Linked DNA regions of Homo sapiens. The protein of the gene in region 4 purifies or fractionates together with the protein of the main gene of each other region. This does not show direct contact. Each region holds a gene or a part of one and is shown on either strand. Other genes may lie near its edges.

Region 1 (3,500 bases), on a different chromosome or scaffold from region 4:
GGAGGCAGGGAGGGTGGCTTGCCCTGCAGCTCAAATGGATGGAGCACTGGCAGGCTGGATGGTGTCCGGGTGCCTGGGCACAGCCTCCAGGTCCTGGAGCCTCCAGGTCCTTTTCTGTGATCCCTGCTGGGAGGGGAAGCTGGCCTTGCACCGCGTCCTGAGAGAGGGGGACAGTGGCACTGGAGCTGTTCCTGCTCTGTGATGCCTGCTGGGAGGGGAAGCAGGCCTCGTACCAGGTCCTGAGAGAGGGGGACAGTGGCACTGGAGCTGTTCCTGCTCTGTGATCCCCGCTGGGAGGGGAAGCAGGCCTCGTACCAGGTCCTGACAGAGGGGGACAGTGGCACTGGAGCTGTTCCTGCTCTGTGATTCCTGCTGGGAGGGGAAGCTGGCCTTGTGCCAGGTCCTGAGAGGGGGGGACTGTGGCATTTCTCTCATCACTAGCCCGCAGGGGTCTAGGAGAGGGTGACACCAGCCAGGGCTGGCAGGGCACCCTCTCTGCTCTCTCTAGCCTTTCTGGTAGCAGCGGGACCCTCTCTTCAAGTGCACTTGAGATGGTCACCCAGCCCCTGACAGCTGGAGCACTGGGGGGCAGCGGATAGACAACTTACACTGGCCTGTGTCCTCAGCCCACACCCTCTCTGTGGCAGCCCCTGGACACCTCGCCACAACCCAGCTCCTCCACCATGTCGGCCAGGCCCGAGGAGGGCACCAGGCCCCGTGGGTGTCAAACACTCAACCCCAAGCAGTGGGGTGCAAGGAGGGGACAGAGGGGCCTGCCCTGGTCACTCCAAATGCTCCTACGCCCAAGAATTCGACGCCTGTCATAGCACACAGGCATGCATTACTAGTGTCATTAAAGAAATATAATCAAGTGCCGGGGCAAGGTAGAGCCTCAAAGAACAAAGTCTAGAAAAAGGAACCTGTTCCTCCCCAAAGTGCTGCTCCACAGGAGGAGCCCTGGCTGCCGGGGAGCCCAAGGCCAGAGCCCAAGGGCGGCCTCACCTGGTGGCAGGTCCCTAAGAACCTCCCCACATAAGTCGTCTCCACCAGCCCCTCAACTCGAGCACTCAGGCTCCTTTCAAGAGCACCTGTCACGCGAGGGGCTGTGCACAGGACACATGGTCCCCTCCTCACACCACCCACCCGAACTTCCAGCTGAGGACACAGAGGCACAAGCAGTCATGTGCCCCCAAGCCACTCAGCGGGGACAGCATTCAAAGCCTAGGCTCTCAACCACACCCTATCCCCAGATGCAAAGCTGACCACTGAGCGGTGTGCTCCAGTGCAGGAAGGCAGGGGGCACGCTCTTGCCTGTCTCTAAAGCCACTTGGGGCACATGTGCCCTTGTAGCCTGGAGGCAGTCCTGCCAGCTCCTGCTGAAGTTGCAGTTTTCAAACTTTCAGGGCCAGAAGGACCCTTATCTCAAATAAAACCTCTGAAAGTACAAATATCTAATTATGACACAATAAAAAATAAATATTTGGTCCCAGCCCCAGTTCCTGACACAGAGTCCTCTAAAACCCTTGTCATTTCCTCAGCAACAGGGGTGCTAGGAGCCTCTTTTGTTCTAATATTTGTTCCTTGACCTTTGCTCCCAACACAGAACTCCAAACCCTTGGAATTTCCCGGGTGGTAGGAGTGTCTTATGTGCCAGTGAGGTGACTCTTGGCTCCTGGAGGTGGCTGGCTGCCAGAAAGACCAAGCCATGATTAGAGACTTGGAAGTGTCGTCTAAGAGCTCCCGAGGAAAAACAAACAAAAACCTGGGCCAGGTGGGCCGGGCATGGGGGCTCACGGCTGTAATCTCAGCACTTTGGGAGGCCGAGGCAGGTGGATCACCTGAGGTCGAGCGATTGAGACCAGCCTGACCAACATGATGAAACCCCGTCTCTACTAAAAATACAAAATTAGCCAGGCATGGTAGCATATGCCTGTAATCCCAGCTACTCGGGAGGCTGAGGCAGGAGAAGCACTTGAACCTAGGAGGCGGAGGTTGCAGTGAGCCAAGATCACACCATTGCACTCCAGCCTGGGCAACAAGAGCGAAACTCTGTCTCAAAAACAAACAAAAACCACTTTGGGAGGCTGAGATGGACAGATCATGAGGTCAAGAGATTGAGACCATCCTGGCCAACATGGCGAAACCCCCATCTCTACTAAAAATACAAAAATTAGCCAAGCGTGGTGGCACGTGCCTGTAGTCCCAGCTACTCAGGAGGCTGAGGCAGGAGAATTGCTTCAACTCGGGAGGCGGAGGTTGCAGTGAGCCAAGATTGTGCCACTGCACGCCAGCCTGGGCAGCAGAGTGAGGCTTCGTCTCAAAACAAAACAAAACAAAAACAAAACAAAAACCTGGAACTGAATTTCAGCCCAGCCCCATCCTCCAGGGAGGGGACAGGGGCTGGAGATGGAGTTAATCATCAATCCTGCCTACGTGATGAAGCCTCCAGAAAAGGCCCTGAAATGGGGTTTTCAGGAGAGCTTCTGGTTTGCTGAATACGAGGAAGGTGGTGCGCCCCACCCCTTCCCCCACACCTCACCCTGTGAACCTCTTCATCTGAATCCTTTACAATAAACCAACAAACACCAGCCAAGTGTTTCCCTGGGTTCTGTGAGCCACACTAGCAACTCATCAAGCCTGAGGAGGGGACTGTGGGAGCCTGATTTATGGCTGGTTGCTGAGAAGTTCAGGTGACAGCGGGGGCTTATGAGTGGCATCTGAAGTGGGGCAGTCTTGTGGGACTGGGCCCTCAAAGTGCAGGGGTTGCATGACCTCCAGGCAGCGTTGGAACTGAAACCAGTCAAAGGACCCCAGCTGGTTCCCGCAGAAAAGTGGGGAGTCCCTGGGGTGGGAGAAACCCCTCACATCGTGGTAAAGTCCTGGGAGTATGGTCAAAGAGCACGGTTTGGTTTTCTCCCTCTGGTTAGTAAGGTGGACAGAAGCCTCCCCCAGGAGTCTGGGGCCCCCAGCCAGGCCGGTGCCAGCCGCCCGCGGGACTCACACTGCCCTGCCGTTCAGGAACTCCTCCGATGCCTGGCAGTAGATGGTGATGGCCACGCGGGCATCGGCGTCGAAGGTGAACTCCAGGCTGTAGAGCACCCGGGGCTTGTCGCCGTCCTCGGTGGGGCTGTCGGCATCGTCTTTGTACCTACCCCAGGCGGTGGAGAGAAAGGCAGCGGGTCAGCGGCCCCATCTGCGGAGGCTGCCTCCTCCCCTGCCAGGCTGAGGGGCCGTGGAGGTGGCTATGTGGACACAGCCCGCTTCTCCAGTAGACATAGGGGCTGTTTCCTATTTGTACATGAAAGCCCAGTGGTCCAGGGCTTGCCTCTCCTTCTTCCTGCCCACAGAAGACGGGGTACGTGCTTTTGGTTCAGAGACAGCCCCAGATGCCTCAAGTCTAGTCGGTTTAAGCAGTTTCTGAACCTGCTGAAATCTGGTGCTGGGTCATTCCTGTCTGTGGGGGGGCCGTCCTGTGCATGGCAGGAAGTCTGCAGCACCCC
Region 2 (3,500 bases), on a different chromosome or scaffold from region 4:
ACCGCAGAAGGCAAGATCCAGGGAGATAAACACATTCACTTGAAGAGGTCATCCTGAGCAGCTTCCAAAAACCAGAAACTACATAAGCTCATTATAAGAAATAATTTTAGTATGAGATACCAGGGGGAGAAAAAAAAGAACGTGTTGCCTCTAAAAAGAGAATGTTACTATTTAATGTAAATCTGCTATTTGCAGGGGTGTGGGGGTAGGCTTTTGAAAGATTATAAAGGTTTTGCCCAGCTGGAAGCCTATAGTTTCACAACATACTACTAGTTTGCAACCCCAAGATCAATGCCCACCTTTTAAAGTTCATTTTAAAGACTGTCTGTCTATATGCATGCTATACTTCAATAAAAACATTGAAGAAGAAAAAAAATATAGATACAGGCTCCTTCCTTTTTCCCAAACAGCATCAGTGGGAAGGATAGTGAGTAGAGTAGCCGCGCCTGCAAAGCTTCTAACCACTGTCTCCTCACAGGCTCAAGAGTCACCAATAATGTGGCATCCATGCTCCCTCACTGAGTATCTCTTAGTAGGTTGACTCTAGGACCACTGTGAAAATTAAAAAGCATTTCATTTTAAAATTTAGGTTCTCAATGAGTGACCCTGAAAATAGAATTGGCCCATCACGCTGGTGTTGGAAGACTGTGTTGACACAGGAATGAGGTAGTCAATTTGACTGCCCAACTCTTTCTTTGTGATAAGAAAGGATAATACAGATTTATTTTATTCACGCCCTAAATGTGGGGAAAACGCTATGTAACTTGATCTAATTAAAAAAGAACTTTTAAGTATTCACTTAAGATTATTCTAAAAATTACCCTAAAATATGTAAGCTCAGTTAATAATGGGTTAGCCAAAAAGGATTTCTGTAGAAGAGGTTAACCAATCATATTCAAGACATCTTACTGTTTTACAAATCCGAATGCGTGTAATTCCAAGAGAACTCAATAGAGCTAGTTTTTGTATTCCTGGGACTAAAAAATTATCTAAAACTCCTTGACTCTGGGATGTCAAGTTTCTTCTGGCCTCTTAGGGCTGCCAAGATCCCTGTTTTCCGTATAAATTGAAGCCCAAAACTCCTTGGTAAACCATTCTGGAAGGGACTGATACAGGCTTGGAATAATGTATATTAGCATGGCTGCCACAAGACAGAAAGGAAGATGCAAAAAAGCTCAGGCTGTGAAGGGATGAAATTGCAATACAACTAGAGGCTATTTACTGGTTTTTACCTTTTGATTCTGGAGCTTACAAACTGGTCTACCTATTTGTGTGTGGTGCAGACTTCCAAGCTCCCAGTGGTGCCCACCTCTTGGTATTTATGCCCTTGCGCGGTTCTCTCTCCTGGAGTGTGGGCTGGACCACACTTCGAATGAGCAGAATACTACAACATTGATGGGATGCCACTTCCCAGATTAGATAGTAAGAAACAGTGACTTCCGTCCTGCTTCCTCCTTGCCCTCTTGTTTGCTCATTCTGGGGGAGCCAACTGCCAAGCTGTGACCCGCTCTGTGGAGAGGAACCATGACAGACCTCTGGCCACAGCCAGCAAGGAGGAGCTTGGGCCCTCCGTCCAACAGTCCGTGAAGAACTGAATCCCACCATCAACTGCCTGTGTGAACGTGGAAGCAGGTCCACCTTCAGTTGAACCTTAAGATGACATCAGCCTTGGCCAACACCTTGACTGCAGTCCTGTGTCCTGTGAGGGCCATGGGACCCCGCTAAGCTGTACTCATGTCCCTGACCACAGAAACTGTGAGATAAGAGTATACGTTCTTTTAAGCCCCTGGGTTTTGAGGTCATCTGTTACTCAGAAATAGGTAATTAATACAGTAAGCAGAACTCTAAAGCAGGGTTGGCTTTTTTTGCAAAGGGCCAGATAGCAAATATTTTCAGCTCTGTGGGCCATATTGTTTTGGTCACAATTACTTAACTGTGCCATAGAAGCATGAAAGCTGAGGATATACCAACAAATGAGCATGGTTCTATTCCAATAAAACTTTATTTATAAAACCAGGTGGTGATTTGGCCCGCTAACTGTAGTCTGCCAACCCCTGCTCTAAAGTAAAGAAATCCTAATTTGGAGTTAAAAGGCAGATGATCTCCATTTTACTCCTGTGCTCAAAATTATTTTAACAATAAAACAAAAGCTAAATCTATCACAATAACACAATCTCAGGCAGCTGAAAAGAAAAGCAGATGTCCACAGAATTTCTGATTTTGGTAAACAATCTAAGAAATACAAATATATCTTTTATGACAGATACCTCTAATTGCATTTTTATGGAAAAGTTGAAGTCCAACACTGGAGATAAATCTGAGCCAGAGGAACCTACTGAATTAGTTGTTTACCACAACTATAATCTTAATAGCTCCTTAAGCACGCACTGGCTTTTCCCTCACACATCACGGATCTCCGGCAGTGGGAGATGATTACCTTTGCTTTTTGGCAATGGCGATGGAGGCTGCTCTGTAAACACTTCTAGGGCTGGGGAGTCATGGTGGTCGAAGTCTTTGTCCATGGCTTCTATGAGACTGGTGATGTCCGAGTCCTCGGAACTGTGCCTCGCGCTGCTGGCACGTTCTGGGTGGGAAGGGTGTGCGAGGGGGGCGGGAGACAGCCTTTCAGGCTGCGGCTCCTGGGGCTGAGGCACTGGCGGTGGCAGAGGAGGCTGAGGGTGCTGCTCCAGCGGGCTGTGGGCATGGTGCTGGCTGCCGTGCTGGCTCTGCTTTGCCCCTTTGGACTTTCTGCCCGCTGTATGACCTTGAGTCACTGTGTTCGAATCTAAGACAAGGGGGCTTGTTTTGTTAGCAGACTGTGAAGAAGCTGCTTGAGCAGAAGTCCTACTAGAGGTACTTGAACTGTTTTTGGCTCTGACGTTTTCCACGTCAGCTGAGTTTCTATTGCTGTGACTGCTGTGTGGGTGGACCGATGGGCCACACTGCTTATGACTCCCGGCACTGGGTCGGGATGATGAACCGCCTGCTCCACAGAACCCCCTACTGTGACCGGGGTCACAGCTGAGTGTGTTCAAGCTGAAAAAGGGACCAACTGCAGATCAGTAAATAGCAACCTACAAAATCTAATATTAAAAAAAAACTTCAACTTCATCAGTACAGCCACCATAAATATAAACTACACTAGGGAAAAAATAGCAAGAAATAGGGAAATTTCTACAACTCTCTAACATCTGTTCTATCTGAACATTTATAATTTACCATCAGTGATCTAACTAAAAGTATTTTAACCCTTACCAATATAATAAAAACACAGTATCCAGCATGAGCTCTAAGTCACTCAGAGTTCCATACAGGGTGTTATTAAGTAATCAGAATTAAGATTTTTTTTCTCCTGAGCAAAGATGAAAAGAAACTTATTTTTTATTGTAATTTTATCAGCCAAATCTATGTACACTAGGGAATTTATTGCCAGCATGTGAACATACTTTCCTTCAGATGAAATACCAACGATTCTCCTGAGATCAAATGGCCTTCCCACA
Region 3 (3,500 bases), on a different chromosome or scaffold from region 4:
CACTTACGCTCCCCCTTCATTTGAGGGTTTACACACACCTACCTCACAGGTCTTTGCTAGGAACTGTGGGGGTGCAAAGAAGAGCCTGCCCTAAAAGGAATCAATAATCTATTTGTGGACACGGTCTAAATATGCTCAAAGGCAGATACAAAGCATCTTCATTATAGTTCAAGATAACAAAAGAGAGATTCCCTAGGCAGGGGAATGATTATAGAAGGAACACAAATAGTAACTTTTCTAAAGTTCTCTGGAAGCGTCAAAGAGAAAGTGTCCTAAATGGGCCAAGCTTCGTTCTAGAGAAAGAATTGGGTTTGGGTAGATATGTGCATGTATATTTTGGAGGGAGGAGGCTGTCTAGGTCATTAAACTGGAATGAAAGTACCTGCCTGACAAACTAGCCTGCTACACCAGGTACATTTAAGGGATAGGTTGAAGCACAGAAGTAGAAGATTCAAGAAAGGGCGGAAGAGCAGCTGCCTCCCCCTTTGGCAAGCGTCTTTCATGTTCTTCTAATAAAGTACCCATCCAATGGTATTTCAGTGATCTGAGCATTTGTCTACTTCCCATGAGACCGTGAGCTTCTGAGGGACAGGGCTACTTCTTAATCTCTGTAGCCCCAGTACCTAGGAGAGTAGCAGGGGCTCAATAAATGACCGTGTTGAATGAATGTTTGAATGGTGTTGAATGAATGTTTATAACTGTTTTAGGTTTTTTGTTTTACTTTCATTGGATTAATAAGGATACATCTATTTTCGATAAAAAGCCAGAATTTGTTAAATGGAATGTCTAGGTGTCAATTAAAAAAAAAAAAAAAAAAAAAAAAGCTGATTCAATTCTGCCTTCCTTTCTCTGCTGCCACCTGGTGGCAACACTGAGCTATTATTAATGGACGTTTATAACGTGAGAAATGTAACCCCTGAACCTGAACCAACCACGGGAAGATGCTTCTTCACAAATAACTGTCTTCCCCACAGTCCAGGCCAGTATACAACTCCTGCCGGGAAGAACACTATACTTTATTCTACAACTCTGTCTTATCTCTGTTGCTAATTGGCCAGGCATTCATATTTTCTGAAGTTCCAACTCCTTACAATTTTAACTGCAACATAGGGGCTATCTTTTAACATAAACATCTTAATATTTCATCAGTCATGAAAGTGTTTCAGTGGTTTTTCAAGCTCATCTTGTATGACACACTGACCCAGAGGGTAGTAAGAAACTTGACAGTTTGCAAGACAGTGTTGAATCTGAAACGATCATTTGTTTAAATTACCCTGGTAGTAAAAATTTACAGTGTGGCTATAACTTGAGACCATTATTTAAAATAACGTTCCAATTAAGCACAATTATTGGCTGAGTAAAAGGCAGTACTGACTGTAAAGTTAATGGGATGCAAAGAACTTTTGTGGAATTAAAGTTTGTCCAGCTACAGATCTCCTTCCATTAAATAGAACAGATTTTTAATTAAATTCAACAAACATTAAGTACACTGTGCAGTTATAAAGGTGAATACATGGTTCACAGCTTGCAGTGGGACCCGGCTATTAAGGGATTAAGTAAAGATCTTATTTAGCCTATTCCTTTTCCTTCAGACCATGCGGGTTTAGCTTTTCCACTTAGATGTTTGTGGATAGGAAAGCAAAAGGAACTATCTCAACCACTTGGCACTCAAATAAGGGAGAAATCAAATTTTTTTAATCAAAAGGATACAGGCTCCCATAGGAATGCTCTGTGTCTTGGGAAGATGGGTCCTGCTGGGGTTGTCCAGCACCTGGCCACTGCTTGTCTTCCCTTGACATTTTACGGCGTTTATGGACATTGTCCATGGTCCAGCTCCACGGAAATGAACTCAGAGGCCCTCTGGCTCTCTGAAGGTGGGAAAATGCCAGATCTACAAATCTTTTTTTATTTTTTTTGAGACAGAGTTTAGCTCTGTCACCCAGGCTGGAGTGAAGTGGCACGATCTCTGCTCACCACAACCTCCACCTCCCGGGTTCAAGTGATTCTCCTGCTTCAGCCTCTCAAGTAGCTGGGATTACAGGTGCCTGCCACTGCGCCTGGCTGATTTTTGTATTTTTAGTAGAGATGGGGTTTTGCCGTGTTGTCCAGGCTTGTCTTAAACTCCTGACCTCAGGTGATTTGCCCACCTCGGCCTCCCAAAGTACTGGGATTACAGGCATAAGCCACGGCGCCTGACCCATATCTACAACTCTTGAGTCTAGTGACCGCAGTGGTTTCCTTCTTTGGGTCAGTTTTAATATATTTAGAAAGGGAGACAGCACCTGGCCACCTCCCATTGTTCAAGATTGCAATTCAATTATTCCTCTATTTGCTAGCAAGCAGGAACAAGGTGGTGAGGTCAGGCACTGGCTGGGCTTCAGGCAGCAGGAAAACTATTCGAGATCAGTTCGGTTGCCTTATATGCGGACATGTTGATCAAAATAGAAATATGTCATGTTGAAGGGGGGAACTGTACACAGGTAATTAGCAGATAATAAATGAGGTCAGTGAATTCAGGGGCTAGTGTAGAGGTCAGTGGGACATTATGGAAGAGAGACAAAATAAAGAGCAAGAAAAAAGTAAATGACTTTAGACTTGGAACTCTAGGAATCAAATGAAACAAGCCAAGAGTTTGACAGAGGCCTGATCAATGGCTGTGTGAGTATGGACCACTCTTGGATGCCAGCAACAGGGCCCTTCCCTGAGATGGTGATATCATGATGCTGGAAGCACTTAGACAAAGGGAAATTTGACCATGAAAAGCACAGAACTGTGTGGTGTGGTTAGCTCCACCAGGGAGGACTGGAGAAGGGTTTAGGCGAGGGTATGTGAGAAAATACACAATGGGATCACAAGGGGAACAGACTTATTCTGTGCATAAGTGACTTGGACAATGCCGGGAGGCTTGGGATTTCCTGGTCACTTGCCATGACTGCTGACGACCATTAGATGTGCTCTGCATCTGTGCCTCCGCATTGCCTCACCTACCCTGCATGTCTGGTGCCATCACCGCCTGGGACAGAGCAAAGGAGAGGCCTCCACGGGCCGCTGCCACTTGTCACTTGAAAGAAAAAGGAACTAGGATTGCCAGAGAAGGGAGGGATGAGAAACAACACATCCCTAGGTTTGCTTTATTTCCAAGGCACCTCTTCAGTATCTCTTGGGCCTGAGAACTGGTGCCATTTACTGGGTAAAGAAGAGCTAGACATGTCGCCTCAGACATTCTGAGTGGCAGATGCCGAGTGTGTGTGTGTGTGTGTGTGTGTGTGTGTGTGTGTGTGTGTGTACATGCACACATGGGTGTATATGGGCTAAATATTGAAAATGGGTCCTGTGCATGCTCAGTCCCATACCTCACACTCTTGTGAATTTCTGTGTGTGTGTTTCTGCAATGCAAAGGACAGAAGATTAAACAAAATCATATGGAAATCTAGAGAAAGAGATTGTTCAGTTTTTTTGTTTTGTTTTGTTTTGTTTTGAGACGGAGTCTTGCTCTGTTG
Region 4 (3,500 bases):
CAGGATGCTCTGAGGATTCTTCTCCACTAGAGGGCGCCAGCTCACCTCCCCTGTCAGAAGCAGATCCTCCCCGTTCATGGAGTCCAGGTACTGTATCTGCAACCAGGGGAGGGGGAAGGAGGAAGCGACAGAGGCAGGGCAGAGGTGAGGAGCCAGCGTCAGGAACCAGCCTCCCAGAGGAGAGGAAGGAAGGGGACGGGGCATGAGGGGGGCTTCTGACCATCCCAGGTCCCAGACCAAGCCGTCCCAGGCCAAGCCGTCTCTGATCTCCTAGATAATTTCACTAAGGTGGTTCAGAGAAAGCAGTCACTGGGGAGCTGGGTGGCGGGGGCAGTTAGGGAATTCCCTATCACACCTCTGAATGGAGACAGACACACACCTCCCAAGGACACGTCTCCCCTACACGCCCTCCCTAGACAGCTCCTGCAGGCCAGGAAGTCAGGGCTTGCAGCGCACACAGCCATGCTGTCCACCCCAGCACTGCTGGGTGAGAGTCCTGATTCTGTCCCTTCCCAGTGCTGCTACCCAGGGTGGCAGCTTCCCCTCTCTGAGATTTAAGTTCCCTTGTCTTGAGAGAGGGGATAGAAACAGGTACCTCACAGGACACATGAAGAGATTCAACAATATGCATATATGCAGTGCTAGGCACTCACGCTTTAAACATATGTATGCCTCTGTTGTCCTCTAGTGGGCCCCTGGTCAGTGGGCCCCAGTATCACCTCTCTAGGACAGTAGGGGCAGACAGCTCTGCCATTAAAATGGTCATCATCCAGAGAAGCCACTGCTGCAGGGCCAGGAGACTTCATCTTAGGCTTTAGGTCATTCCCCCTTCCAAGAATCCACCACTCTGGTTGCTTCCGCTTCCAGCTGCTGACGCTTGAACTCAACCCCAGCCTCTCGCACGTGTCTTGGCTCTGGATTCCCACCTGCCCTGCCATCTCTTCCCTAAAGCCCACTCCTCCCTTACAGTGACTCCATTTCTGCCCCCAGTGCCACCCCTCTGCCCACCTCCTGGGTTGAAAATCTCAACAGAACCTCTGGTTGGCTCTTGGGCCATCGGCCACACCAAACAGTCTGCTCAAGGCCCAGCTCCTGCTCTTCCTTTCCCGGCCTTCAGCACTCTGCCCTCCCTGTATCACATAACAGGCTGGCTTACTCCAGGGTTAGCCGTGTGCCTGGGCTTCCTCACCAAACCATGAGCTGGCTCCTCGAGGGCAGGACTGGGTCTTATTAATCGTTGCTTTCCCAAGAGTACATGGAGCAGCAGGTGCTCAAAAGGTTTGCTGATAGAACTGGGTCCCCACCAAAGCTCCCTGCTTTCCCAAGAACCCCTTCACGGTTTTTCCACTGCCTCTCACTGGGGCCACATGGGACCTCTTGTAGGGACAATGGTTGTGGCAGCCCCTTCCTAGAGGGCCCTCGGAGAAGTCCCAGTGTGTCTTGTTGGGGCTTCTGGCACAAGCCCACCATGGCAGATGGAAATGTTGGGCAGGTCTCTCAGAAAACACAGCATTTGCTTTGCGAATTGCTACTCCCGTCTGAGGGTGAGTCCAGTCAACAGAGTATCAGAATTCTCTGTGAGTGGGGCCCTCTGGCCATGCCGTGCCCTCTCCCTGGCTCTAGCAGATTTGAAGAGTGGTCAAACAGAAGTCCTGGCTCCTGGGATTCTCTACCCTGTGGGTCTGCAGAGCCCCAGTATGTGGTTTTTCCAGCAGTTAACAAGCTAGTCCTATGGGCCCTGTCTTCTCAAGAGCTGAAGTCCAGCCTTGCCTTTCCTGGTTGTTGAAGACCATGAATACAAGTGAACAAGAGAGTAACTGTGGCGTGACACCCCTTCAGCTCCAGGGGCCAGGCCATGAAGCAAAGGTGTGACTCATGGCACAGCCTGAGCTGTCTGAGGCAGCTGAGGCCTCAGTGGTCACATGAATCACACAGCTTGGGGCCCTAGGGCAGCTGTGCAGGCTGACTCACTGGGAGGCCCTGGAAGAGCCTCTATGTCCTCTTCGCTGCCAGTCAGCTCACTCATCTATCAAGTATGAGTTTCCCATCAATACAGGATCTGAGGGCAGGGAGGTCAAGGAATTAATTCCCCGGGGCTTGAGGACAGCTATGTGGGTAAGCAGCCCCCACTGCGGAGCTTTCTCGTAGAAGCTTTGATGTCGGGGAGCCCTGGGGAGCCAGAGGGGTGAGAAACTGAAGTGGGGGGACTCTACTTGACTGTGGAGAGCATCTAGCAGGAAGAGGCTGTCTGTGAAATGCTGCCTGCTGCCCAGTTTTGCTGGAAGTCAGGAGCAGGAAACAAATCCAAGTGGGTAGAGAAGGGGTCCACAGTGGGCAGCTGCTACTACACCACGTGCTCATATCTGCCAGGACTCTGTGGGCCCAGCTGCTAGCATAGCACTGGGCGCACAGTAGGCAATGAGGTGCACAGTGAATGAATGACTCAAAGTTCCTGAGGGCAGGAGACTACTCGATGCCTCTTTCTCTCTCTCTTCCCATTTCCCGCTCCCTGGCCCAGTTCATGGTTGGACATACAGAAGGCGCTCCTTCTTCAGCGTCTAGTGCTGATGTGATCTGGTCAGAATTCTCTCAGGCTGGTCCTTGGTAACTCCACCTCTCATGATCCCCTGAAAGCCCAAGAGGAGGACCCACTGTTGCCAGGACTTGGGAGGGGAGGGAAAGGGTCACTCACCTGTTTCCTCACATACTCTACCAGCAATTCAAGATGTCGAGGGTCTTCACATTTCCGGTTGAAGAAGGTTCTCCAGAGGGCAGCGGCCAGCCCATGATCATCTGAAAGGATCCCCTGGAACATACAGCACAGCAGTGGTCTCCTGAGGGATCCACAGAGCCAGGACACAGACGGTGGGGATACTATGAACATGCTAGCAACCATGGAATCAGCTCAGAAGGGCCCTCCACGCACAAGAGGAAAATGGGGCAGTCACACAGTAGAGGTGGAAGGGGTCTTACAAGGGTATCTGGCCCAATCCCTTCATTTTATTACATACAGAGGGAGAACAGGGGGTCCAGAGGGGCCAAGCCACCAGTTAGGTGATGCAGAGCTGGGACTCAGGCAGTACTCCGTACTGCGCCTGGCCCAGGCAACACTTGAGAGGCTGAGAAGAGAAACAGTAGCAGCAATGCTCCCCCTGCTGTCCATAGCAGCAATGCTCCCCCTGCTGTCCACAGGGCACGGGCTGGGAATATTGTGAATGTATGTTTCTCCCAGGAATGGAGGTGGGCATGGACTGTGCCTTCTTGCTTGGTCCAAGGACCAAGGCAAGGCAACTGGTCCTTGGGGGAAGGGAGCCAGCTACCTTGTCTTCACTCTTACCCAACTCTGGGCCCAGCCTCTCCCTAAGTAGGGGAACAGGATGTTCAGCAGGATTGCTGGGGCCACAGAGGGCCAGGCTCAGAGCTTGCATGTGTGTGTGTGCCTAACGCTGCCTCTTTTGGCAGAGGAGACTTCTGTTGGGAAGCTTAAAGATTACAGAGCA

What was found.
Region 1: the proteins of UQCC1 (region 4) and MGRN1 purify together in Homo sapiens (affinity purification with mass spectrometry; one large-scale study listed by BioGRID and IntAct). This does not show direct contact.
Region 2: the proteins of UQCC1 (region 4) and TMEM131 purify together in Homo sapiens (affinity purification with mass spectrometry; one large-scale study listed by BioGRID and IntAct). This does not show direct contact.
Region 3: the proteins of UQCC1 (region 4) and THSD4 purify together in Homo sapiens (affinity purification with mass spectrometry; one large-scale study listed by BioGRID and IntAct). This does not show direct contact.

Annotation. Positions count from the first base shown.
Region 1 is NC_000016.10:4,652,326-4,655,825, reverse strand, and holds part of MGRN1 (E3 ubiquitin-protein ligase MGRN1), read right to left. Parts: intron 3,149-3,500; coding exon 3,002-3,148; intron 1-3,001. UniProt on the Homo sapiens protein: E3 ubiquitin-protein ligase. Mediates monoubiquitination at multiple sites of TSG101 in the presence of UBE2D1, but not of UBE2G1, nor UBE2H. Plays a role in the regulation of endosome-to-lysosome trafficking.
Region 2 is NC_000002.12:97,789,949-97,793,448, forward strand, and holds part of TMEM131 (transmembrane protein 131 precursor), read right to left. Parts: coding exon 3,447-3,500; intron 3,037-3,446; coding exon 2,438-3,036; intron 1-2,437.
Region 3 is NC_000015.10:71,741,471-71,744,970, reverse strand, and holds part of THSD4 (thrombospondin type-1 domain-containing protein 4 isoform 1 precursor), read right to left. Parts: intron 1-3,500. UniProt on the Homo sapiens protein: Promotes FBN1 matrix assembly.
Region 4 is NC_000020.11:35,303,974-35,307,473, forward strand, and holds part of UQCC1 (ubiquinol-cytochrome c reductase complex assembly factor 1), read right to left. Parts: intron 2,807-3,500; coding exon 2,693-2,806; intron 97-2,692; coding exon 1-96. UniProt on the Homo sapiens protein: Required for the assembly of the ubiquinol-cytochrome c reductase complex (mitochondrial respiratory chain complex III or cytochrome b-c1 complex). Involved in cytochrome b translation and/or stability.